7 linked regions of the Homo sapiens genome follow. The protein of the gene in region 7 interacts with the protein of the main gene of each other region in a pairwise test. Each region holds a gene or a part of one and is shown on either strand. Other genes may lie near its edges. The genes, in order: RIGI, ADARB1, EHHADH, STAU1, ZFP28, PNPT1 and PRKRA.

Region 1 (3,500 bases), on a different chromosome or scaffold from region 7:
GTTTGCTTCATAAGAACTTTCTGGAAAGGTTCCTAAGTGAGCTCTTGAGGACAGGATGAGAAGTTGATGTTATCTTGGCTTCCACGGTGCCACTCCCAGTAGGTGCTGTGACCAGAATACGACTCTTAAAAAGAGGAACGTACCCGCAAATGTGAAGTGTATAAAAACAGGGCTTTACAAATCCTGCTCTCTTCATCTTTGTCTGGCATCTGGAACACCATGCATGCTTTCTGAACTGTAACAATCCATTGTTCATATTTCTGTGTTCCAAATTCCCTATTTTGAATTTGAGATAAGTTTTCTGTTAAAAAAAAAAAAAAAAGTTTTTCACTGTCTCATATGGTCAGTCATTTAGGGTTATAAACAGGCCTCACCCTCTAATTTTCTTTTTCTTTTTTTTTTTCCTCGAGGCAGAGTCTCGCTCTGATGCCCAGGCTGTAGTACAATGGCACGATCTTGGCTCACCGCAACCTCCACCTCCCGGATTCAAGCGATTCTCCTGCCTCAGCCTGCTAAGTAGCTGAGACTACAGGCGTGTGCCATCACGCCTGGCTAATTTTTGTATTTTTAGTAGAGACAGGGTTTCACCATGTTGTCAAGCTGGTTTCAAACTCCTGACCTCAGGTGATCCGCCTGCCTCGGTCTCCCAAAGTGCTGGGATTACAGGCGTGAGCCACTGCACCTGGCCTAATTTTCTTTCTTACTCTCTGCAAACAGGATATTCCTCCTGAAATAGTCTTAAGTCATCTAGTTAAAACTATTTAACTGGATTCAGACTGGTGAAAAGGTGGAAGCAGGGTACCTGAGGTGGGAGGAGTAAGAAAATAGAAACTCATGTGACTCCATCACCATCTCTCCATCCTTCTGCTCCTTCCCCCATTGAGATAACACCACTGTGCTGCTGGATAATATGACAACCTCCAAACTGTTCTCCCTACCTCTTGCCTTGTTCCCTCCCTTGAGTTTTAAGCAGTGCATCTGTGTGTTTGTTTGTGTGTGTGTGTGTGTGTGTGTGTGTGTTTGATTGTTTCTTGAGTACTGTGTACCAAGAATCAAAGTACCTTACATTCATAATTTCATTTAATTTTCACAACCCATGAGATACATATTACATTTCATATATTGGGAAACTGAAGTTCAGAAAAGCCAAGTAATAAGTAATTTACCCATAGTCACACAGCAAGTACGTGGAGAAAGGGCAGGAATTCAAACCCACATGTGTCAGATGCCCAAGCTCTACTGGCTCTATGAGCTGACAACCAAAGCAGCCCAGAAATAAAACAGTAGACATGAAAAACCCAACTTTGCCTTTAAAAATGAAGAAGTAAAAATAACAGGTCTCAAGAGCTTCATCAGAGGAGGATATATAAAAGCAGGAGATTGGCCGGCCGCAGTGGCTCATGCCTGTAATCCCAGCACTTTGGGAGCCCCAGGCGGGTGGATCACGAGGTCAAGAGATTGAGATCACCCTGGCCAACAGGGTGAAACCCCGTTTCTACTAAAAATACAAAAATTAGCTGGGGGTGGTGGCACGCACCTGAAGTCCCAGCTACTTAGGAGACTGAGGCAGGAGAATCGCTTGAACCCAGGAGACGGAGGTTGCAGTGAACCGAGATCACGTCACTGTACTCCAGCCTGGCGACAGAGTGAGACTCTTAAAAAAAAAAAAAATCAAGGAGGAGATTTAGGACTCAGTTCACCCTATGTTCTGCTTTGCTGTGAACTTGGGCCTCCTGTTCTCCAGAGCAGCATTCTCAGGGCCAAGCATAGAATCGGCCCTCAAAAGACACTTATCACACATGCATCTGTCTGTGTGCATCTCCTAGGATAAGCCTCAGTTGCTTGGTTCAAAGCTGGGGCATCTGCTGTGGTCCAGGCTCTGTGTAGGGTGCTGGGGATAAGATGAGGAGACTATGGCTGTGTTCTCAAGCAGCTGAGTCTGTGAGTTACTCTGGTATCAGTTCGCCAGGGCTCCTCATGAAGAGCACAGTACAACAAAAGTCACAAGCAAGAGCTGTATTTCTGGGTTAAATTCTTCCCCTCACTCATTCATTTTCAATAATAGGAACAAAGGAGGCTACCCAAACAAGTAGTATTGACATGCTTCTTTCCAAGTTGCAGCTACAGCGAGGTGGCCAGCAGTAAAGAAGATGAGCCAACAGGTACTGATTGAACCTGGGTAGGTGTAAAAATAGCCTAAGCAGTTTAGAGATGAGCAGCTAACTGGATTCGGACTGGCAAAAAGGTGGAGGCAGGGTACGGGAGGTGGGAGGAGTAAGAAAATAGAAACTCACGTGACTCCATCACCGTCTCTCCATCCTTCTGCTACTTCCCCAATTCAAACCACATCAGTGTGCTGCTGGATAATATGACAATCTCCAAACTGGTCTCCCTTCCTCTTGCCTTGTTCCCTCTAACCCATACTCTACCCAGTGGTTAGAGGGAGTTTGCAAAATTGCAGATGAGAAATCATCCCACCCCACTGCTTAAAAGCCTTTAGTGGTCCTGCAGCCAAAATCCTGCCCCAGCTCACACACTCCTCCCCATGCTCTGGCCTCTGCTTGCTTTTGCTTCTCATTTCTGGCCACTCTCCTTTCAGCATTCTACAGGACTAATGGAAGTCCCTATACTCTTTCTAGTCTCCTGGCCTTTGCATATGCTATTCCCTGTGCCTGAAACACACCTTATCACCCCCACCACACCAGCTGCTTTAGTATTAGTATTACTTCTCTAATTTTGGTCTTACCATCAGACTAGAAATGCCCTGAGGCCAGGGGCTGTATCTTAGGGTTCATGCTGTATTCCCATCACCTAGCCCATTCCTTAGCACTAAATGAATGAACATATGCATGAACACATTCGGGAAACTGCTAAATCAAAAGGATTCAGGTAGGGAAGTAGTAGAATATAACATTGGAAAGATAAGTAGAACCTGGGTGTTCAGGCAGGGCTCAGACTGCAGGTTAGAGGCGTGAAGATTATCCTGTAGGCAAAGGGTTTTTAAGCAGGACAGGGACATGATAAAATGTATTCATGAAGACTAACTAGTTCATGAGAGGTTGAATGGAAGAGAGAGCAGAGGTAGGCAAAATCAGCTAGAAGGCTGTTAGAACAATTATAATAGAAATTAAACTGTGAAAGAAAAGGGGAGAGAAAAGCAAAATAAGTGTGAGAGGAGACACTCCATGAGGTGTCTTACAGACGTCACATTTAACATCCCTAAAACTCAAAACTCAAAACCTTGTACCTGCCAAGGCTGCTTCTAGTCCTGGTACCAGGACCACCCACTGGCATTCATAGAGGTGCCTAAGCCAGATGCCTGGGGGGAAATCAGCCCCTCCTGCCCCTTTCTCATCCCCACCCAAATCCGTTTAGCCATTCAATCATAACACTCACAGTTGGAAGCATCTCACATGTGTCTCCTTCCTTCTCCAATCCATCTCTACTGCCTCTCTTTGGTCCTTCTCATTCACTGGTATCTTTATTACGTCACTAATCAG
Region 2 (3,500 bases), on a different chromosome or scaffold from region 7:
AAAGGGCGATTCATTCGAGTTTACAGAGAAGAAAAAGTCATAAGAAGATTAGGGATAAGCCAGAGGAAATAAAAGTTTCCATTTCATATAAGATTAGGCGAATCTCCAAACTTTCAAAGAGAGGCGAAGAACTTTAACTTCAGAGTGAGTTCCGAGAGCCTCACTCTGAAGGTCTGGTGCTGGGGCTGATGCTTGTTAACGCAGACATCTGAGGCACATGGCCAGGGCTCAGCACCCCGTTGAGGGGATTACTGGTCTCATTAACCTGTATGGTTAATGAAGGACTTCCCTCTTAATTTGGGGGACAGATATAAGAACAAAAAAAATGCTCTTAAGAGTTAAACCCATGCCACACAGTCCCAGGCAGCACCATTTACCTGCAGTGACACGCAGGGATGACTGACCTACGTCCTTCAAGGGTTACTCTAGAAAAAGAGTGAGGGTTTTCCACCCATCCTAGAATGCACATTTGGAAATTTCCTGTTGAAGGACAATAGAGCCCACCAACAAAGCCCTAAGGACTGCTTCTGGGAGGGCCACCCGGGTCCTACAAGGAACACGTCACATTCCGGGGCTATCCTGGGGGCTCCAAAGACACAAGGTGGCAGGTTCCACTCCGGCAGAGACTCGAAGTGCAGCTCCATCCCCTCATGCCCTAGTGGTTCTGGACATGAGGCCTAGAGCCTGGTGTTCAGCACCTACAGAGCCCAGAGGAACGTGGCGTCAGGGGGCTGAGGCAGCCCTGCCCACCTGCACCCCTCCCCAGGCTGGAGCCCAACAGATGTCCCTCCAGCCTTCCCAAGCCAGGGGCTCTGGTCATGCTCCACACAGAAGTCACTGCAGGCGCACAGCCAAGCCAGGGAGGCAGGGGTGACATCTCTACTGGCACTTCGATCTGCGTCCGCCTAAGGTGCTCCTAGCCTACACACTGAAGGTTCAGACATCTGGGATCCACGGCATTTGATGTCATTTCAATGGTCTTATATGCCACTCTGTCAATATTAAGGGAAGACAAGTCACATCAGACAATATTTTGAACTCAGGCTTTAATATTTTAGCAAAGAGTAATCCTGAAAATAAAAAATCACATGGGATCTAGTAGCACTGATTTGTTAAAGTACAAATGGACTAATAATCCTTATAAACAATGTTGACGAGAGGTTAATAAGGGAAGCAAGTATTTGGTTCGTTAAAAAAATCAGTGAAATACCTTGAATATATTATTTTATACTGATGTTGCATTTGATTCCTTTAGGCAAAATAAAATACATTTCCTTCCTTTAAAACAGAACTCCTGGTCATCTCAGACTACAACTGCACAGAGGTTGTTCTAATTGTAGCCAACAGCAAAAAAGAAACTATAAGACACTTGGATTCTTCCAGGGGAACACAAGCCACCTTCAAGTCTTGTGGTCAAGGGTAGTATACATGTTATCTTCAAAGTGAAGAAGACTCTGATACAAAGTAATAAATGAATAGAGGGTCAAAAAAATAACTTTTGCAATAGACCAGAAGAACTTTGGATTTCCAAGAAAAGAAGGAATACATAATCAGAGAGTTTTAGGATTTAGAGATGAGAACTAAAGGTGATTTTCTCCTTTACTTTTTCTCTTTCACGTAAGCCAATCTAAGCCCACCCTGGAACTTCCCCTTCCTTCATCCTGATTTCACTGCGCTGGGGAGGTCAAATGGAAGGGTGGCTGTCCACCTCCAGCCTGGGCATGCGGGGAAGTCCTCATACAGCCCATGTAGGAAATTCAAAGTAGAGACTCCCAGGCAACTGGCAGGCCCTAGAACAGTTGTTGGAGGCCCCTCCCTCCCTGCGCTCTGATAGGTGCTCACTGCTGTGCTGGCTCATTCGCTGCTTTGATGGGCTCCTCGGCTTAGGAACAGCAAACAGCCACCAGCCAGTCATGTGGGAGCCCAGAGGCTGCCATCTTGACCCAGACTTGGGTTTTCAGCTGCTGACGGGCTGGTGTCACTTATCTTGAATGTGAGATTCTTGGATGAGACCTTTGAAGGAAAATGGTGCTGAACTGGGGGCAAGGTTTCAAAGACTGGGCTCTTCTTCCGTCTCTCCTGCTAAAGGCTTGCTGTGGGATGAGGGTCATGGGGGGGGTTGCCTAACGGGAAGGGAGTTATGGATAGTGTTGTAAACACTGCTCTGGTGGACGGGGTCTCAGGTGTCCCTGCCTTGCATTGCGACAGACCCAGCATGCACTAGGATGCAGACGGCTTCTCAGTGGCCACATGGCCATGGAAATCAAGCAGCCAGACTTACCAGTAACTCCTCCTGGTGGGGACAGAGTGATGTCAAGGTGGAAAGTCAACAGTAATCCTGAAACTAAAATGCTGTCTAGAAGCATTACCAAGAGCAATGACCCCGTGTTTTAAAGCAGCAGCATAGTTCCTCACCTGCGGTAAATGCAGCTGAAGACCCTCACTGGGAATAGGCTGGCGAGATGGCGTCTGATCCAAGTGCAAGTTAAAAATGGCGGCCAGGGCAGACTGCGCAGCCCGGGCCTTGGCAAGCTTCTTGTTTCTCCCCGAGCCTTCAAAGAACTGACCATCCACGACCACAGACATGACGAAGCTCTTGGCATGGCTCTCCCCGCTCTCGGAGAGGAAGTCATACTTGAGTCCTGGGCGCAGTTCGTTCAAGATCATCACGGGATTCTTCCCACTCGGGGGTGGGAATGGTGGTAAGACAGGGAGAGGAGGCTGGGCTAGGCTGGCAGGCACCGGGGAAGCAGACAAGCTGAGGTCCCCGCTGGAACTGAAGGAGTCATCCCCATTGGAGCCCACGTAAAAGGGAGGCTCCGCCTTGTCAGGAGTTTCAAAACCATTGAAGAGCGTGTCAGGGAAGTCGGCCTGGTCAGATGTGAAGTCCGTGTTGACAGACAGGGTCCTCCCCATGGCCAGGTGGGCCTCAGAGGCATTAGGAAACTGAACGAAAGACCTCAAGGCCTTCTCAGCAGCATGGAGTTTTGCCTTTTTCTTTGTGGGACCAGAGCCCTCAAAAACCTGGCCATTCACCTCCACAGACATGACAAACAAAGGCGCGTGCACGGGCCCAGTCTGGGACAGGAGTGTGTACTGCAAACCAGGCTTGATCTCATTCAGCTGCATCAGGGCGTTCTTGGGGAGGACGGGCCCTGGTGTTTTCCTCCTTTTCTTCAGGCGGTACTTGGAGTGGCCATTGCTGCCCTCCTCCAGGGGCCGCTTTCTGCCGGGGCCACCACCACCCCCATTGGAGAGCTGAGAGCCCTCGCCAGGCCCAGGTGTGCTGCCATCCTTGGGGGACACGTTGTCCAGATTGCGGTTTTCCTTCACATCAGTGCTGCTGGAACCTGTGGTGCCCAGAAAGAGTAACTTACAATGCCTTCGTTGCAGGATCTTGTAAATGCAAAATTTATAGATTCCTTTAGCTCTCTTTGTAACTGGTTAAGTGATGTGTGCTTATAAATTTTATTCCTTGATGTATACATGAAGAGTTATAC
Region 3 (2,463 bases), on a different chromosome or scaffold from region 7:
GTCCAACTTCATTCTTTTGCATGTGGATATCCAGTTGTCCCAGCATCATTTGTTGAAAAGACTATACTTTCTCTGTTGAATGTTCTTGGCACTCTTGTTAAAAATCAATTGGCCATAATTGTGTGGGTTTGCTTTTGGCTATCAGTTCTATTCTGCTAATCTATATGTCTATCCTTTTGCAATGACCACTATCTTACACTGTCTTAAATACTATAGGCTTCTTTTTTTTTTTTTTTTTTTTTTTTTTTTGAGACAGGGTCTCACTCTGTCACATAGGCTGGAGTGCAGTAGTGTGATCATAGCTCACTGCAATCCTCAAACTCCTGGGCTCAAGATATCCTCCTGCTTCAGCTTCCCAAATAGCTGTGACTATAGGCATGCACCATCATGCCTGGCTAATTTTTGTTGTTGTTGTTGTTGTTGTTGTTGTTGTTGTTGTTACAGAGTTTCAATCTTGTTGCCCAGGCTGGAGTGCAATGGTGCGATCTTGGCTCACTGCAACCTCTGCCACCTGGGTTCAAGTGATTCTCCTGCCTCAGCCTCCCAAGTAGTGGGGATTACAGGCATGCACCACCACACCCAGCTGATTTTGTATTTTTAGTAGAGACGGGTTTTCTCCATGTTGGTCAGGCTGGTCTTGAAATCCTGACCTCAGGTGATCTGCCCACCTCGGCCTCCCAGAGTGCTGGGATTACAAGTGTGAGCCATTGCACCTGGCCCCCTGGCTAATTTTTAATTTTTTATAGAGTTGGAGTCTCACTGTGTTGCCTGGGCTGGTCTCAAACTCCTGGTTCCAAGTGATCCTCTCACCTTGGCCTCCCAAAGTGCTGGGATTACAGGCACGAGCCACCTCACCCAACCTTGAATAGTTTTGTCATACAATTTGAAATTGGGAAGAGTGAATCCTCCAACTTTGTTCTTTTTCAGTATTGTTTTGGCTCTTCTGGATTTCTTGCATTTCTATGTGAATTTTAGGATCAGCTTATTGATTCTGCAAAAAACCAGCTGGGATTTTTATAGGAATTGTGTTGGTTCTTCACATCAATTTGGGTAGTATTACCACCTTAACAATATTAAGTTGTCTGATACAAAAACATTTAATGTTTTTCCATTTATTTGGTCTTACTTAATTTCTATTAACAATGTTTTGTACTTTTTAGTGTACAAATCCTCCTATTCTTTGTTAAATTTCTTCCTGTGTATTATTCTTTTTGATGCTATTGTAAGTAGAATTGTTTCTTTTAATTTTATATTCAGATTGTTTATTTCTAATATATAGAAATATACTTGATTTTTGTATATCAATTGTGTACCTACAATCTCGTTGGACTCATTTATTAGTTTGTATAGCTTCTATTTGTGTGTGTGAATCTGACTAATTTTTATATCCTCTGAAACACTTAAGAGAGTGCAGAGTCTTAACTAGTACTCAATCCATTTGTGTTTCTTGACTCAATCTCTTTAAATGCCACATTGTCACATAAGCCTTCCATCCAGTGAATAATTTATCAGTTCCCAATACCACTGAATCATTCTTTTTCTCCTTTGATTTTTATCTGCAGGCTTGGGAACAATGGGCCGAGGCATTGTCATTTCTTTTGCAAGGGCCAGGATTCCTGTGATTGCTGTAGACTCGGACAAAAACCAGCTAGCAACTGCAAACAAGATGATAACCTCTGTCTTGGAAAAAGAAGCCTCCAAAATGCAACAGAGCGGCCACCCTTGGTCAGGACCAAAACCCAGGTTAACTTCATCTGTGAAGGAGCTTGGTGGTGTAGATTTAGTCATTGAAGCAGTATTTGAGGAAATGAGCCTGAAGAAGCAGGTCTTTGCTGAACTCTCAGCTGTGTGCAAACCAGAAGCATTTTTGTGCACTAATACTTCAGCCCTGGATGTTGATGAGATTGCTTCTTCCACTGATCGTCCTCACTTGGTCATTGGCACCCACTTCTTTTCGCCAGCTCATGTCATGAAGTTGTTAGAGGTTATTCCCAGCCAATACTCTTCCCCCACTACCATTGCCACTGTTATGAACTTATCAAAAAAGATTAAAAAGATTGGAGTCGTTGTAGGCAACTGTTTTGGATTTGTGGGGAATCGAATGTTGAATCCTTACTACAATCAGGCATATTTCTTGTTAGAAGAAGGCAGCAAACCAGAGGAGGTAGATCAGGTGCTGGAAGAGTTTGGTTTTAAAATGGGACCTTTTAGAGTGTCTGATCTTGCTGGGTTGGATGTGGGCTGGAAATCTAGAAAGGGGCAAGGTCTTACTGGACCTACATTGCTTCCAGGAACTCCTGCCCGAAAAAGGGGTAATAGGAGGTACTGCCCAATTCCTGATGTGCTCTGTGAATTAGGACGATTTGGCCAGAAGACAGGTAAGGGTTGGTATCAATATGACAAGCCATTGGGTAGGATTCACAAACCTGATCCCTGGCTTTCCAAATTCCTATCACGGTATAG
Region 4 (3,500 bases), on a different chromosome or scaffold from region 7:
AAACTGAAAAAAAGGGTGGTTATGTTTTCAAACAAGAGCCCACAAACACATTGCAGCATCAAAACAAACATTGTCTTAATTTGTGTGAAGTACTGCTGTGTGTTTAAATCAAGTTTGCAAAATATCTTTCATGAGAAGTAATTGGAAGAGAATTTTGAGGCTGGACGTGGTGGGTCATGCCTGTAATCCCAGCACTTTGGGAGACTGAGGCAGGTGGATCACTTGAGGTCAGGAGTTCGAGACCAGCCTGGCCAACATGGTGAAACCCTGTCTCTACTAAAAGTACAGAAATTAGCCGGGCATGGTGGCAGGTGCCTGTAATCCCAGCTACTCGGGAGACTGAGGCAGGAGAATTTCTTGAACCCAGGAGGTGGAGGTTGCATTGAGCCAAGATCACACCACTGCACTCTAACCTGGGGACAGAGTGAGACTGTGTCTCTTAAAAAAAAAAAAAAATTTCAGTGCATACACACACAATCTCTTTTTTTTGTTGTTGTTTATAAAAAACAACAAAAAAGGATAAGAAGGGGATGACAGGATGAATTATCAAGATAAGACCAGGCCTCTTAAACCATGACCATAGAAAGTGTTCAAGGTTCAAGTGACATATTACAGTCAATGTCAGGTTTCATGAATTTGAGAGCTCACACTTTTCATTTCTAGGAATTTACAGTACTGCTGACACTTGGAAATCAGCAATGGGGAGCTGAGTGAACTGGTATTAAAAAGGTCAAACACACAGCTGCTGCTAAAGCTTTGGAGGGAACAAAATTTCCTAAGCCCATAGTCAGCCCTTTTGGTAGCGAAGGAAGGAATCCAGGTCTTATGCATGGGCCAAACAGGTACCTTTCAAAAGTGTGTCTAGAGGTACCATGTAGTATGTATATGAATGGTTTCTTAACTTGTTGATTTTGAAAGCACAGATTCTACACTACCAGTGACAAATGCTTATTTTTTAGGAATCCTTAACCTCATTGTAAAGCAGTGGTTTCCAATCTATGATGCCTTAACGCCTGACAATCTGGAAAGGCGGTCATAGGAAGGATGGCGGGTGACCAGATAATTTCAAAGATTTCCGAAGTTTAATGAAAATATATTTTTGATAAGAGTGTATAGATTAGCAAGAATATAAGTTTAATTTAGAGTCACATCAAGTCAGTGTGGTAATATTGATTGTAATTTTGTTGGTCAGAAGTGCTTATTGCCAGTTGTATGTCTCTTAGTTATTAAAAAGAATGAGAAAAATGTAAATATTACTTAAATACAAGCCAGCAGGTAGTATCTCCTCAGACAAGGAGCCCATTCAGGGAGCATACTAATCAAGAAGGCATGGCTGGTGAAGGGTTGGGGATCAGTGACCTGGAGGCTGTGTCATTAATGGCTGTTTTAGCAGAGACCCCCTCACATGCATGAAGTCATCCCAGGTCTTCGTATGTAGGAAGGAATCTGGGAAGTTACCAGTCACATCTTTCTTGTTACTTTTGATTTCTTTGCAGTATACTTTCTTCATGTTTATTCTCTATTGCAGACAAATTCTGTGGATCAGAGCTGCTCTTAAAATGATTCAGACTGTACTTAAAATGCAATTATATGAATTTTGTAAAAAATATAATTCTAATGCAAGGAAGAGAGAGATCTGTAATTCATGTGGCCCTCTGTGCAAACCCCAAAGATATTCTTATAGATTTGATTCATGCATTAAATTTAGTTGAACCAGTTATAGTACAGAATCAGGTCTTTTTTATTTCTCTCTATATACATCCTAAAGAGGCATTTTAAAGTGGATTTTTATGTGCATTTAGATTTTGCCATTTCTAGTGTTCTGTTTTTGATATGAAAGTGTTGTTTTTAAATATTGTGCACTGACACTAATCTTTCCAGGCTGGTTTTCTTTTTAAATGGTTTTTAAAGGTTTATGGATTGGATGAACTGAAAGAAAAAAAAATTGGAAAATGAATAGCATGTATTTTCTGAAGTTGATAATTTTGAGATAACTTGTTGTGTATGAAAATGGAACTCATTTTCGTAGCAAGTATGACCACAGGTCAAATTCATTAGAAATGTCAAGAATGGAAATACCTGAATATTTTGTGGGCCTTGTGTGACTTCTGTGAAGAGAATTGGGTTGCCACCTCCTCACTGATTTTTCACCTTTAAGTTGCACATCATGTTGTATTGTAACTCTTTGAGTGTGCTTTGTGTTTTTTGAACTCCTCTGGGGCAGGAATTGTGTTTCTTTTTTTTTTTTAAGACAGAGTTTTGCTCTTGTTTCCTCATCTGGAGTACAGTGACGCAATCTCGACTCACTGCAACCTCTGCTTCCTGGGTTCAGGCGATTCTCCTGCCTCAGCCTCCTGAGTAGATGGGATTACAGGCATGCGCCACCATGCCTGGCTAATTTTTTGTATTTTTAGTAGAAACGGGGTTTCACCGTGTTAGCCAGGCTGGTCTCGAACTCCTGACCTCAGGTGATCCACCCGCCTCGGCCTTCCAAAGTGCTGGGATTACAGGTGTGAGCCACCCTCACTGCAAGGTCCGCCTCCCAGGTTCACACCATTCTTCTGCCTCAGCCTCCTGAGTAGCTGGGACTGCAGGCACCCGCCACCATGCCTGGCTAATTTTTTGTATTTTTTAGTAGAGATAGGGTTTCACCATGTTAGCCAAGATGGTCTCGATACCCTGACCTTGTGATCCTCCTGCCTTGGCCTCCCAAAGTGCTGGGATTACAGGCGTGAGCCACCACGCCTGGCCAGGAATTGTGTTTCTTAAGCTTAGCACAGTGCTTTGCATCCAGTTAGTAATGTAATAAATGCATCGTTCAATACTGTGTACGGACATACTTCTGAGTGCAAGCCAATAATCCTGTAAATCAGTACAACCAAGGTTATATTGATTAAGTATTCTCAAACAGTAAAACAATTTGGACATTTACATGGGATTTTTTAATCGTGAAATTTGATGTGTTTTGGAACTTATTTCTGACAGCTGTACCATATAGCTTTCACTGATAATGTCTTGGGTTAAATTGTGGCTCCTCTGGTAACCCTCAGAGTAGATTTTGTGCTGTCGACTGTGTATAAATATCTAGAAATCACAGCATATTCTTGGATTTCCTTGTCTGATGCCTAGCAGTGAGCCACCCAGGTCCTTTTATGTAAAGTATCATGAATCCAATTAGCAGAAAGCATGCTATTACATTTTATTTTAGTGAGTATCATTCTCATACCAGAAAAAAACAGTTCTTTGTCGATTCTTTCTTGCAGAAAGCATAACCCCTACTGTAGAACTAAATGCACTGTGCATGAAACTTGGAAAAAAACCAATGTATAAGCCTGTTGACCCTTACTCTCGGATGCAGTCCACCTATAACTACAACATGAGAGGAGGTGCTTATCCCCCGAGGTATGTGTTTTTTTTTTTTTTTTTTTGTAAAATACAGGAGAAAACGTGTCTGATCTTTTACATAAACCAGTACCTCTAGATTGTGGAGGGAGTAATGA
Region 5 (4,070 bases), on a different chromosome or scaffold from region 7:
AAAAGAAAAGTACTAAAAGAAAAAAGCAAAGCAGGGAAGAGGGATGTGAAGAACAGGTAGGAGGCTCTGAAATTCTAGACAGGGTGAGCAGGAAAATGAGAAGGCGATTTTTCAGAAAGAAGAGAGTGATGTAGATGTCAGGGGTAACAAGGAGCCAGGTCATGTAGGGCCTGGTCAGTAACAGGAAGAGTTTTGGCTTTTATTCAGAGAAACCACTGGAGGGTCCTGAGCACAGCGTGACACAAGGTGACATGTTTGAATAGACCCCTCTGGCTGCTCATCGGGAAGGGGCTGTGGGGAGCGTGAGCAGAAGCAGGAGGTCACAGAAGCACAGTCAAGAAGCCCACAGTAAAAGGAGGACTTGGACCTGCTGCTGGTGATAGATGTGATGAAAACTGCCAGATTCTGCACATAATTTGCAAATAGAACTGACAGGATTTGCATCAGGACCAAATATGGAAGGAAAAGGCAAGAAATGAGCCAATCATGACAAGGCTTCCGGACTGAGTAACTGAGAGGATGAAACGGCCACTGACTAAGACTCAAACTGTGGGAGGAGCTGGTTTATGGGAGACTCTCAGGACTTCGGGTCTGGACAGGCTGTCTTGAGTTACCCATCAGACACTCAGGCAGAGGAGTGGAGCAGGATACACAGGCCGGCGGCTCAGAGGAGAGGTTTGGGCTCACAATGTGAATCTGGGAGGAGCCACCATGTGGGTAGGTTGTACAGACAAGGAACAGGCTACTATCCCCAGGAGACAGCATGCAGACAAAAAAAGAAAGGGCCATGAGCAGAGTGCTGAGGCACACTCTGTTCAAGTCACGGAGGTAAGAACTGTGGCAAAAACTGAGCAGTCAGGAAGATGAAAGTCAGATGAGTGTGAGATCCCAGTAGCCAAGGGAAAAAAGGGGGCCTATTGAAGGACAGGGATGAGCTATTTGAGGGATAGGTAGCCACCTGTTTTGTAACTGAAGTTTTACTGGAACACAGCCCATCCATTCATTTACATATTGTCTTTGGCTACTTTAGCTCTATAAGAGCAGAAAGGAGTAGATGCAGCAGGACTTTCAAAGCCTAACATATTTTCTGCTGTGGCCTCATCCAGCACAAGTTTGCCAGCCTCTGAGCTATTTCAAATACCAATGATAGTCAAAAAAGACTAAGAATTGAGCACTGCATCTGGTAATGTGAAGATCACAGTAACCCACTCAAGAGCAGTTTGGGTAGGACAACTGGAAGCTGGTTCATCTGTACATATATTTTTTGAGGCCTCAGTGGAAGTGAAATGGTTCATCTATTAATGAGCTAGCTATGATATTTATAGGAGAAGCCAACCGAAACAAACACAACTATTTACTGGCATGTTTTAAAGCCACAAAATCAAGTGGAAAAGCCTTTCATATTGCGCCTCCTCTCCCTAAAATGTTGTCTTTCTTTACTGTGCCTCCCAAACATCTTCTCTCCCTTCAAGGCAAGGCTCAAAAATCACCTCCTTGGTAAATAGGCCTACCCTTCCGCTACAGGAGGCTGGAAGCCAGGAGCGCCTTGTAGTCCTCGCTCATAATACTTGGCCCAAGGATGATCACATTCTAGAATCTTGCTTGTTTCCTTGACATTGGGTCAACAGGCTGTGAGCTCCAGAGCAGGGACTAGGGCTTAGCTATTGGTTTGCTCAGTGGCTGGCACAAAGTGGTCACCAAACAAACCATGTATAGCAGAAGAGTCTGCCGTGTTCCTCAAGGGGCACAATTCCTCCATCAGAGTCCCTCTGAGAAAAGCGGTACAAGGGAGAGGCTGAATCATTTCATCAATCAAGAATGAAGGCTGATTGGGATGAAGAAGAAGCAGGCATCGAGGCCCCGGGCAGTTTAAACTTTTCCCCGTAGCCCATCACTTCACTAGAACGTGAAGAAATAGAAACCCGCGCCCAAACAGGTCTCTTAAACTGAAAACTTTCAAGAAAATAAGCAACATTAAGTCCCGAAAAGCAAGACTGCATTTCAGAGACAAGAGATGAAATGCCAACTCACCTGGGACATGGCTTTAGGTTCAATTCCTGTCCCCACAGCCTCCAGCTTCTTGTTTCTCTCCTGGGGAAGAGCAGTGTCCCTGGAAGGCAGAGCTGAAAGAGAAAGGAGTAGCTAGAGACCAGGTCTACACCACAGTCCCAAATCACCAGCCTAGAAACGTCCCTTCCTGCATGAAAAGGTGGGATCAGATCATTACCCTGCCTAGGGACTGCCACAACGTGGAGATAGGTTTTTTTCCTCCCTGGGAGCACGAAAACAGGAAAAGCGTCTAGTTAGAGTCACCCTGGGAAAGTCAACACCCTTTTACCGCGGCTTGCTGCTCTGAATCAGTTGAGCTTCCAAATCTTCAGATTCTCCCACTCCACCAGCTTCAAAGACCAGGGGCACAGTTCTCCAGCAACTGGTCCCCGAGAGCCCAACCCCCTCCCAGATCTCATCCCGAGATGAATTCGTCCCTGTCCGCTCGGCCCCAAACACCTGTCACTCTCACCTCTGTGCCCAGGCCCCGTAGGGGCCGCTCCTCGCTGGCCTTTGGATGCGAGGCCATTCCTTGAGCGCGGCCTTCCCCGGGCAGGGAGGGCCAAGGTGGCTGGAGTCCCTACAGTCGGGCCTCGGCCCGCCCGGGGCTTTGTGCGGGGGGCGCCTCTACCCGGGAGCGGCGTCGGCTCGCGGACACTCGCGCTCGCCGCCCCCCGCATGTCACCCGAGGCCGCGCGACGCCCTTCCGACCGGTCCCTCACAGACCCACACCCCTGGCCACACCCGCCCGCCACGCCCAGCGAACAGCCCCGCGCGCGCTCCCCCATGGCCCGGCATCCACTGGGCCGCGCCGCGGAGCCGCCCCGCCCCCGGCCGCGCCCCGCCCCTCCCCACCCCTCCCCGCTGCCCCGCCCCGCCCCGCCCCGCCCCGCCCCGCCCCGCCCCGCCCCGCCCCGCCCCGCCCCGCCCCTCAGCCTAGAGAAGCCCGGCGCTTCCCACTTCCAGTGCGCAGGCAGCGCCGCCGGAACCGGGCGTGGCCTCGGCGCAATGCCCGCTGGGAAGCGTAGTCCCAAGCAGGGACGGATGCGGCGGCCCTCGGAGCTCAGGTTGCAAGATACGGTTTGGCCCCGGGCCTATGCAACGCCCGTCCGTCCTGCCCTCTGCGGGTCGCTCTCACTTGTCCCTGGACCGCAGCCGCCGCATAAGTGGTGGCCAACGCTGGGCCTGGGTGTGGCCGGAAGCAGAGGCCGCTCTGACTACACACCCACCCCCCAAAGGCTTCTGGGAGTCGCGCAGGCGCAGCGGCAGACCGGGTGAGGCGGGGCTTGCGGCGAGGGGTGGGACCGCAGGGCCGGAGTAAAAGGGTGCTTGGCTGTGACAGGTGCTAAGGGCCTGGGCGTCAGCTCCTTGCGGGAGCGTCACTGCCGACCGGGAAGGGAAAGGCAATCTTGGGGGCCTCCGGAGTCCGGAGGATCACTCTGATGGGTGATGTGTGTGGGCTAGGAAGGGGGATGTAGAGAGCTTGTGGGATTGTTTTGGGTGCCCCCTCACCTTCTCCCATTATCTCTGGCTACACGGGCCTCCCATCCTCCAAAATACCATTTTCCATTTTGTAACCTATGTATTTGCACGTCCTGGGTCGAAATAGTCTAACCCCAAATTTTCGTCTGGGCTGGCTCCTTTATGCCATTCACTTGTCATCGCCTCAGAGAGGGCTGCCTAACGTCTCAAAAATACCAGCCCTGGCGACCTCTTAAAGTTCCCTTCCTGTGTGAATCACGGTCTGAAGTTAGCTGATGGATTTATTCTTGAACATGTTTAGGACCGGTCTCTCCCCCAGGGGCCTTATCAGAACTGGAGAGCTTCATCCTGGGAGCCAAGGGCCTTGCTGGCTCACAGGCAGTGATGCTGTTACACCAGTCATCACAGATGCACTGACCTCTGCACGCCCAGTCACACTGCACGCCTGGTCTCCTTACTCTTGAATTGATTTCTTTCAGGTCTCCTGGCCTCAGTGATGGAATTAAGATGACTTCTATCTCTGAATCCAAGGGTGACTG
Region 6 (3,500 bases), about 120 Mb from region 7:
CATGCCTGGCCAGATATACCTACATTTTTATAAGATTTAAAATTTTTTTTAGAGATAAGAGTCCTGCTATGTTGCCCAGGCTGGAGTACAGTAGCTATTCACAGGTATGATTGTTGCACACTACAGTGTCGAACTTCTGGGCTCTAGTGACCTTCCCACTTCAGCCTTCCAAGTAGCTGGGACTACAGGCACGTACCACTGAGTCCAGTGTATTTTTATAAGATTTTAAAAAAGATTACACATTCTAAATTATGACGTCCACATACCATTTACTTTTCTGTGGAATTATAAGGTGATATTTTAAATGATGGGAATGAACAACTTGACATGTGTATCAGTAACCTCTAAACATCTATTTCAAACATCTATTAACCGAAAGTCATGATCCTTCAGCTCTTATACTAAGAACTTCCATACATTAGAGCAATACACATATTCAAATTGACCTAGTTCAATTTGATAAGTAAACAATTTTTTTTTTTTTTTTGAGACGGAGTTTTGCTCTTGTTGCCTGAGCTGGAGTGCAATGGCGCAATCTCGGCTCACTACAACCTCCACCTCCTGGGTTGAAGTGATTCTTCTGCCTCAGCCTCCTGAGTAGCTAGGATTACAGGCATGCGCCACCACGCCCGGCTAATTTTTGCACTTTTAGTAGAGACGGGGTTTCACCGTGTTAGCCAGGATGGTCTCGATCTCCTGATCTCATGATCCGCCTGCCTTAGCCAATAATCTTTCTGTTTAGGTAAATTTGAAAAATATACATCATTACTACCACATTCATCCTAGTTAGAATCTCATTTATATTTATTCCACTCTGTTTATGATTTGGTAACTAATTTGAAAGGCATTATATTATCAAAAGTGTATCAGATTAGCTCCCTCAACTCACTATATCTGTTAACAGTTCTGAAGAAATAGGCACTGGCTTTGAATATGGCCTGTTCCAGTTTGTGAACCGTTGTAGGCAAGTAAAGTTGTTGGGCACAGAGGTGACCTGTAGGATGACTGAAGGTAAACTGTCACTACTGTATACAAAGAAGAAAAATAAGATGTAGGAAGAGATCTGTTATAATAACATATGACATATTCTATCTAAGTTTTTCATATATTTCAGAATTGTAAAAACAAAACTATGTAATTTTTTCTAAGATGTATAAATGACTTACTTTTAATAATAAATATTTCTTGATTTATAATGTAAATACAATTAAACAAATATGGGTTACTCGAATTAAAAAAATGGCACATGTAAATGAGCATTTTAGTACAAATAATTAAAATGTATTTATATTATATAGAAATCTACACAATGGAAGATACTACTAAAATGTTGCTCTACAGCACATCACCCTAGACAAAATAGAATTCTAGAATTCTCTTTAAAAAAAAAAATCACTGAGAATTAGATGATGACTGTGAAATAGGTTCTCCCATTACAATACTACTTCTGTCATTCAAAGTTCTGACCACGGTTGTAGCTGGCGACTGAAGCACTTTTCGAGAAAGCCTCATTCTTCCATCGGCTGGGTCACGTCCAAAGTATTTCACCTGTGTTAAAGAAACAGATCTTCCTTTAAAGTTACAGCACATTGAGTGACATCTAAACTAATAGACATTTAAATTTACATGGTCCAAATAAGGCAATGATTGTTTTTACTTGTTCACTGAAAGCATTGTTCAGTGCTAAGTGGACGTATACACTTAACACATATAAGTAGTCATTATAAAAGAGAAAAGAGACGGGGCAGTTAGTTGTTCAACTATAATCTGCCGCTGAACTCATCTGTGCCTTTTTATTCTCACCAGGCCAAGTCCTTATACTGGGGGAACAGTCACAGGCATAGTGAATGATCCTAGACAAGGGCTTTGAGAGCCTAATTGTGTTATATACTATAGAGGATTATGCTTAGGTCACTTGGATTTTCACTACTGCTCAAAGGACCAACACATTAGTGTTTATTTGGCTTCACCTTGGAAAATGAAAGTCAGGGGCAAATGCAAAGGTTTAAAGTTCCTTCTGATGTGAAAACAACAACAACAACAACAACAACAAATAAACCAAAAAATCAACCTTATACAGAGATACTATATCTTAGCACTCATCTTCCCCTGGAGGCTACTTGGACAATAAGACTACACATTGGGAATAAACCAGAAGCCTTAGTTACTCAGGTCATGCGTATTAGCGTAAGTGAAAGACAATGTGGTGGAGCCCGAAAAAACAGACTGGCAATGACTTCTTTCATCCACTCATAAAGGACTACAAAGAAAGGGCCAATTTTGTTATATGAATTCTAGGCCTGAATAACATGGCTCTTACCAAGCTCAAAAACTTTAAGTAGTGGAGAAACAAAGTCTCACCTCCTCAAAGATGACATTCAAAGACTTTAACAAGTTACCTTATCACAGTTCTTACGTCAGTGCCCAAATCATGGAGTCTGCATAGCTAACACTAACATGCTCATGTATTTTTTAAACGAACTAAGGGTGACTACCATTTTGGCCAAGCTGCAAGCTCCTTGAGGGAAAGAATTGTGTCTTAAATCCTTAATGAGTCTGTTCAAGCAATTCTAAGATTAAAAATGAAGTACTGCATACAAATAAAAAACTTCATAGATGGTGACTCTTCTTTCAACTTTTTGAAAAAAACAATGGAAGCTTCAAGAACAATTTACAACTTCAAGGCTAAAAGGTGGAATACAAATACCTGAATTTCTTGGCCAACTTCTAATCCTAGGGCAGTAGGATGTTTAATCTGGAAAAAAAAATGTTAATCTATTAGTTGTTGTGCATAATTATGTAGTGTCCATGGAAGTACACATTTTTTCCTCAAGCTTTATTAGTTTTTCTGATTAAAAAAATCAGTTAGCGGCTGGGCGCAGTGGCTCAAGCCTGTAATTCCAGCACTTTGGGAGGCAGAAGCGGGCAGATCAAGAGGTCAGGAGATTGAGACCATCTCTGGAGGTCAGGAGAGTGAAACCCCATCTCTGCTAAAAATGCAAAAAATTAGCCGGGCATGGTGGCGGGCGCCTGTAGTCCCAGCTACTCAGGAGGCTGAGGCAGGAGAATGGCGTGAACCCAGGAGGTGGAGCTTGCAGTGAGCCGAGACCACGCCATTGCACTCCAGCCTGGGTGACAGAGAGAGAATCCGTCTCAAAAAAAAAAAAAAAAAATCAGCTGGGCATGGTGGCTCACGGCTGTAATCCCAGAACTTTGGGAGGCTGGGGCAGGCAGATCACTTGAGCTCCGGAGTTCGAAACCAGTCTGACCAACATGGTGAAACCCTATCTCTACTAAAAATACAAAAACTAGCTGGGTGTCGTGGCACACGCCTGTAGTCCCAGCTACTTGGGAGGCTGAGGCAGGAGAATTGCCTGAATCTGGGAGGCAGAGGTTGCAGTAAGCTGAGATTATGCCACTGCATTCCAGCCTGGGCGACAGAGTCAGACTCTGTCTCAGAAAAAAAAAAAAAAATCAGTTAATTATAAAGATTTAAAATA
Region 7 (3,500 bases):
TTCCTTCCTTTCAGTAGTCTATAAACTCCTTAGAGGCAGGGACTGCTTATTCACTGCACCCCAGTACCCAACACAACACTTAGCACACAGTATGAGCTCACTAAATGTTTGCTAAGTGAATGAATGAACAAACAAAGGGATGGAAATGCGCTGTCACTTTGAAGGCAAAAATGGCACTACTGGCCTATCATCTTTAGATCCCGTCCTATTATTCTGAATTTGACTGTGTCTCCCAAGCTCTCTTACCTAATTGCCTCTGTGATCCTGACTCACAAACAGGAAGCAGCTAAAAATGGGGTAGGGTATAACTGAATAATGAAGAGATTTCTAAAAATCACAACTCTGAAGTAGCTATAGAATAAGAAATCAAGGAAAGTTTCCTACTGCAAGAAATGCTTAATGACATTAACATCATAGCTGTCAACATTACTCACTAAAGAAATGTGGTTCTCTGGAGAAATATTACTAAATTTGGCAAGAAATTTCTCAGCAGCATTCCTTTTGGCTTGCTTTTTTGATGCCCCCTTTCCTGAACAAAGAAAAAGAAATGGTAGATTTAGAAAAGAAATTAGTGTCCACAGAGGATGATCAAACGTATGAAGTACTGTGTTTAATCAGAGAACCTCACGGTTTTTATTATATACTAGACTATGTTCTTACTGACCTGATAACTTTGTTTGTTATGCTATTTTGTTTGTATAGCTATTAATTCTTTTTTTTTTTTTTTTTGAGACGGACCCTCACTTTGTCACCAGGCTGGAGTGCAGTGGCACCATCTTGGCTCACTGCAACCTCCGCCTCCTGGGTTCAAGCAATTCTCCTGCTTCAGCCTCCCAAGTAGATGGGATTACAGGTGCCCACCACCACACCTGGCTGATTTTTTGTATTTAGTACAGACAGGGTTTTGCCATGTTGGCCAGGCTGGTCTCAAACTCCTTACCTCATATGATCGGCCCACCTCAGCCTCCCAAAGGGCTGGGATTATCAGTGTGAGCCACTGTGCCAGGCCTGTATAGTTACTAATTCTTACACTTTTGAAGACATTTGTTTTAAGTTTTTCTTTAATAGTTATGCTTTCTGTTTTTCTATAATAATTGTATTTTCCTATGTCTAGCATTACTGAACCATATTTGGTTTAATTCTGACCAATTATTTAGATTTATTAAAATACATCTGAATTATAACTCCTCTCTCTCAATGTCTATTTCCTGCTTATGATCTTCTCTAAACTGACGATTATATGAAATTCCTTTTAACAGGAATAAGAAAGGCACAGGGGATGGTGGAGTTGAAAGATACCATAAATATCTACCTCCATGCTTTTGTTTTATAGATTAAAAAACTGAGGTCCAGAGAAATTAAGTAATTTGCTTAACTTCGCGAATCAAGGACTGCATCAAGGACGGAAGCTGAGGTTCCTGCTTTTGGCCTGGTGCTTTCTGTACTGGCCACACTACCTCCCAAAGGCAAATAGTTTCTTATTACTTGAAACTATTATCTAGCTAAGCTAAAATCCCATTTTAAGCCACTTTTGAAAATAACAAAAACATGCCAGAGAAGTTAACAGGAATTCTCGCTAGTACTTTTTAAAGTGACAGCGTTTCTTATAGTTTATATCCTTTATAACATAGAAGTTGCTATAATTAAGAAAGATAATTTTCATTTTTATCTCACTGCAATTATTTGCCATGTAGTCTCTTATTAATCATATAATTTTCAAGTGTAATCTTCCTCTAGTCCTATTTTCTAGATAGAATAGCTGTTAAAATCCAAGAGATTTACTATAGCTTTTTCTCCAAATTGAGGTTTTTTAAGTCAGTAATTTATCAATGAAGACTGTTTAAAGTACAGAGCCAACAGTTTGTCTTTCTATTAATAATCTATGATTTTTAAAAATATCAAATTAAGAAGACTAAGTATCTTAAGCCAAATATTTATACTTAAGTTCAACCTCAGAAAGTCAGAGACAATAAAAGAGGAGTGTATCAATTTTTCTGCATAGAAATATTTGAAAACATTACGACAGAAATTTCGATAGTCATTCATCATCTGAAAATATTTCAAATGCCTTTAATTGTAAGAAATAAGTACCAGTTTCCATAAATGACTCTAGCCTGCAAATTGTAGTATATTCTCTCTTATGAGCAGGTCCTCCCTCCTGGGAAAGGGTATATTCAGGAAGTCTCCAGCCATGATGAATAGCCAATTCCTATAAAATCAAGATGAGGCTTTAATAGTAATTTTATGCAATGGCTCAATCACATAAGTGTTTTCTTAATTTTGATCCCATTTCTATGTATATGTTTGAAAAGAATAGTGATATTCTGCAACAGAAAAAAGAGGGAAGACCCTCTATTTCTCAAAGACATTCCCGCATTTTATATTTTTATACCCCAATACCAAAACTGAAGCAGTTTTGTGCTACGAATGGTGTTCTTGCATTAAACCACAGTGAGCTGGTATCAGACATCAACTAGAAAAACAGGCTACTACCGCCCTCTTTGGCAACACCAGAGGAGACCATCTACAGGTTTCACTGCCATCAGTTCCTAAAGTCCCTCCCCTCCTAGCTATAGACTTCCAAACCCACAGCTGGCCAAGAACACATGAGGAGTAGGGACAGCAAACAACAGACTTGCATAAAGTGGGGGACAGAAGGTGAAGAAAACTATAGAAAAGCTCACTGTGCAGGAAAAGGAGACCAAAGGACTGGCTGAATAATGGGGAGGGAAATGGCCTAACAGAGCACATGGATAATCTGCAAGAAGGATATTCTGCATATAGAAATTCAAAGCTGAATATATGTGTGTGTGTTTGTGTGTGTATAGATAAAATTTTTTTTTTTTGGTAGAATAAGCAAATAGACTCCTTTTCTTCAGTTAGGTTCACTGATTTGATTTAGGCTCTCTATAAAGTCTTCTGTCTCAACAGAAGTAGAAAGAGATTTGTCACAAGAGTAGCAAGAACTATTCTTAAAGTATAAAACACTTTACCCATGTGCACTGAGGGCCTGTTGATCTTAAATGAGAATTCTATAAGCCAAAGGCAAATACTGTATATGAAAGAAAACCCAGAACATAAATAGGAAAATAATTTCAAGTTAGCTCTGTTAATCTAATGATCGTAAGTTGGAAAACAAAATATATCACTATCTTGTCTTTAAAATATTAATTCCTTGTGTTAGCCCCTCTGACATTACAAACTTATTATATATTTCATCAGTAGGCAAAGAACTGTACAACTTACCTGTAATGAACCAATAGGATTAAGCTGGTTCTTTGGTTGCTTGGAAGGGTCAGGCATTAAGGGGTCAGGAACTGCAAAGCTAAATATTTTTTAAAAGTGTTATAAAACAAAATAATTTCCCCCGAATTATGAAATAAATGACAAGCATTTTCTAATTAACTCTCTATGTCTTTGCTCTTGTCATTCCTTCTACATGGAATGCCCTTTTCTCAGACCTCTTCTATGGGAATCTGATCGGTCATCCAAGATATATC

Evidence for each region.
Region 1: the proteins of PRKRA (region 7) and RIGI interact in binary tests that used the Homo sapiens proteins (3 or more experiments, as listed by UniProt).
Region 2: the proteins of PRKRA (region 7) and ADARB1 interact in binary tests that used the Homo sapiens proteins (3 or more experiments, as listed by UniProt).
Region 3: the proteins of PRKRA (region 7) and EHHADH interact in binary tests that used the Homo sapiens proteins (3 or more experiments, as listed by UniProt).
Region 4: the proteins of PRKRA (region 7) and STAU1 interact in binary tests that used the Homo sapiens proteins (3 or more experiments, as listed by UniProt).
Region 5: the proteins of PRKRA (region 7) and ZFP28 interact in a two-hybrid assay, tested with the Homo sapiens proteins (one large-scale study listed by BioGRID and IntAct).
Region 6: the proteins of PRKRA (region 7) and PNPT1 interact in a two-hybrid assay, tested with the Homo sapiens proteins (one large-scale study listed by BioGRID).

Annotation. Positions count from the first base shown.
Region 1 is NC_000009.12:32,481,197-32,484,696, forward strand, and holds part of RIGI (antiviral innate immune response receptor RIG-I), read right to left. Parts: exon of another isoform or gene 302-3,500; coding exon 144-301; exon of another isoform or gene 1-143.
Region 2 is NC_000021.9:45,175,580-45,179,079, reverse strand, and holds part of ADARB1 (double-stranded RNA-specific editase 1), read right to left. Parts: intron 3,351-3,500; coding exon 2,416-3,350; intron 1-2,415. UniProt on the Homo sapiens protein: Catalyzes the hydrolytic deamination of adenosine to inosine in double-stranded RNA (dsRNA) referred to as A-to-I RNA editing.
Region 3 is NC_000003.12:185,192,587-185,195,049, reverse strand, and holds part of EHHADH (peroxisomal bifunctional enzyme), read left to right. Parts: intron 1-1,562; coding exon 1,563-2,463. UniProt on the Homo sapiens protein: Peroxisomal trifunctional enzyme possessing 2-enoyl-CoA hydratase, 3-hydroxyacyl-CoA dehydrogenase, and delta 3, delta 2-enoyl-CoA isomerase activities. Catalyzes two of the four reactions of the long chain fatty acids peroxisomal beta-oxidation pathway.
Region 4 is NC_000020.11:49,153,835-49,157,334, reverse strand, and holds part of STAU1 (double-stranded RNA-binding protein Staufen homolog 1), read left to right. Parts: intron 1-3,263; coding exon 3,264-3,402; intron 3,403-3,500. UniProt on the Homo sapiens protein: Binds double-stranded RNA (regardless of the sequence) and tubulin.
Region 5 is NC_000019.10:56,537,678-56,541,747, reverse strand, and holds the start of ZFP28 (zinc finger protein 28 homolog), read right to left. Parts: upstream 2,801-4,070; 5' UTR 2,730-2,800; coding exon 2,522-2,729; intron 2,503-2,521; exon of another isoform or gene 2,228-2,502; intron 2,124-2,227; coding exon 2,032-2,123; intron 1-2,031. UniProt on the Homo sapiens protein: May be involved in transcriptional regulation. May have a role in embryonic development.
Region 6 is NC_000002.12:55,634,845-55,638,344, forward strand, and holds part of PNPT1 (polyribonucleotide nucleotidyltransferase 1, mitochondrial precursor), read right to left. Parts: intron 2,756-3,500; coding exon 2,708-2,755; intron 1,549-2,707; coding exon 1,393-1,548; 3' UTR 1-1,392. UniProt on the Homo sapiens protein: RNA-binding protein implicated in numerous RNA metabolic processes. Catalyzes the phosphorolysis of single-stranded polyribonucleotides processively in the 3'-to-5' direction. Mitochondrial intermembrane factor with RNA-processing exoribonulease activity.
Region 7 is NC_000002.12:178,441,176-178,444,675, forward strand, and holds part of PRKRA (interferon-inducible double-stranded RNA-dependent protein kinase activator A), read right to left. Parts: intron 3,326-3,500; coding exon 3,247-3,325; intron 2,210-3,246; coding exon 2,092-2,209; intron 530-2,091; coding exon 435-529; intron 1-434. UniProt on the Homo sapiens protein: Activates EIF2AK2/PKR in the absence of double-stranded RNA (dsRNA), leading to phosphorylation of EIF2S1/EFI2-alpha and inhibition of translation and induction of apoptosis.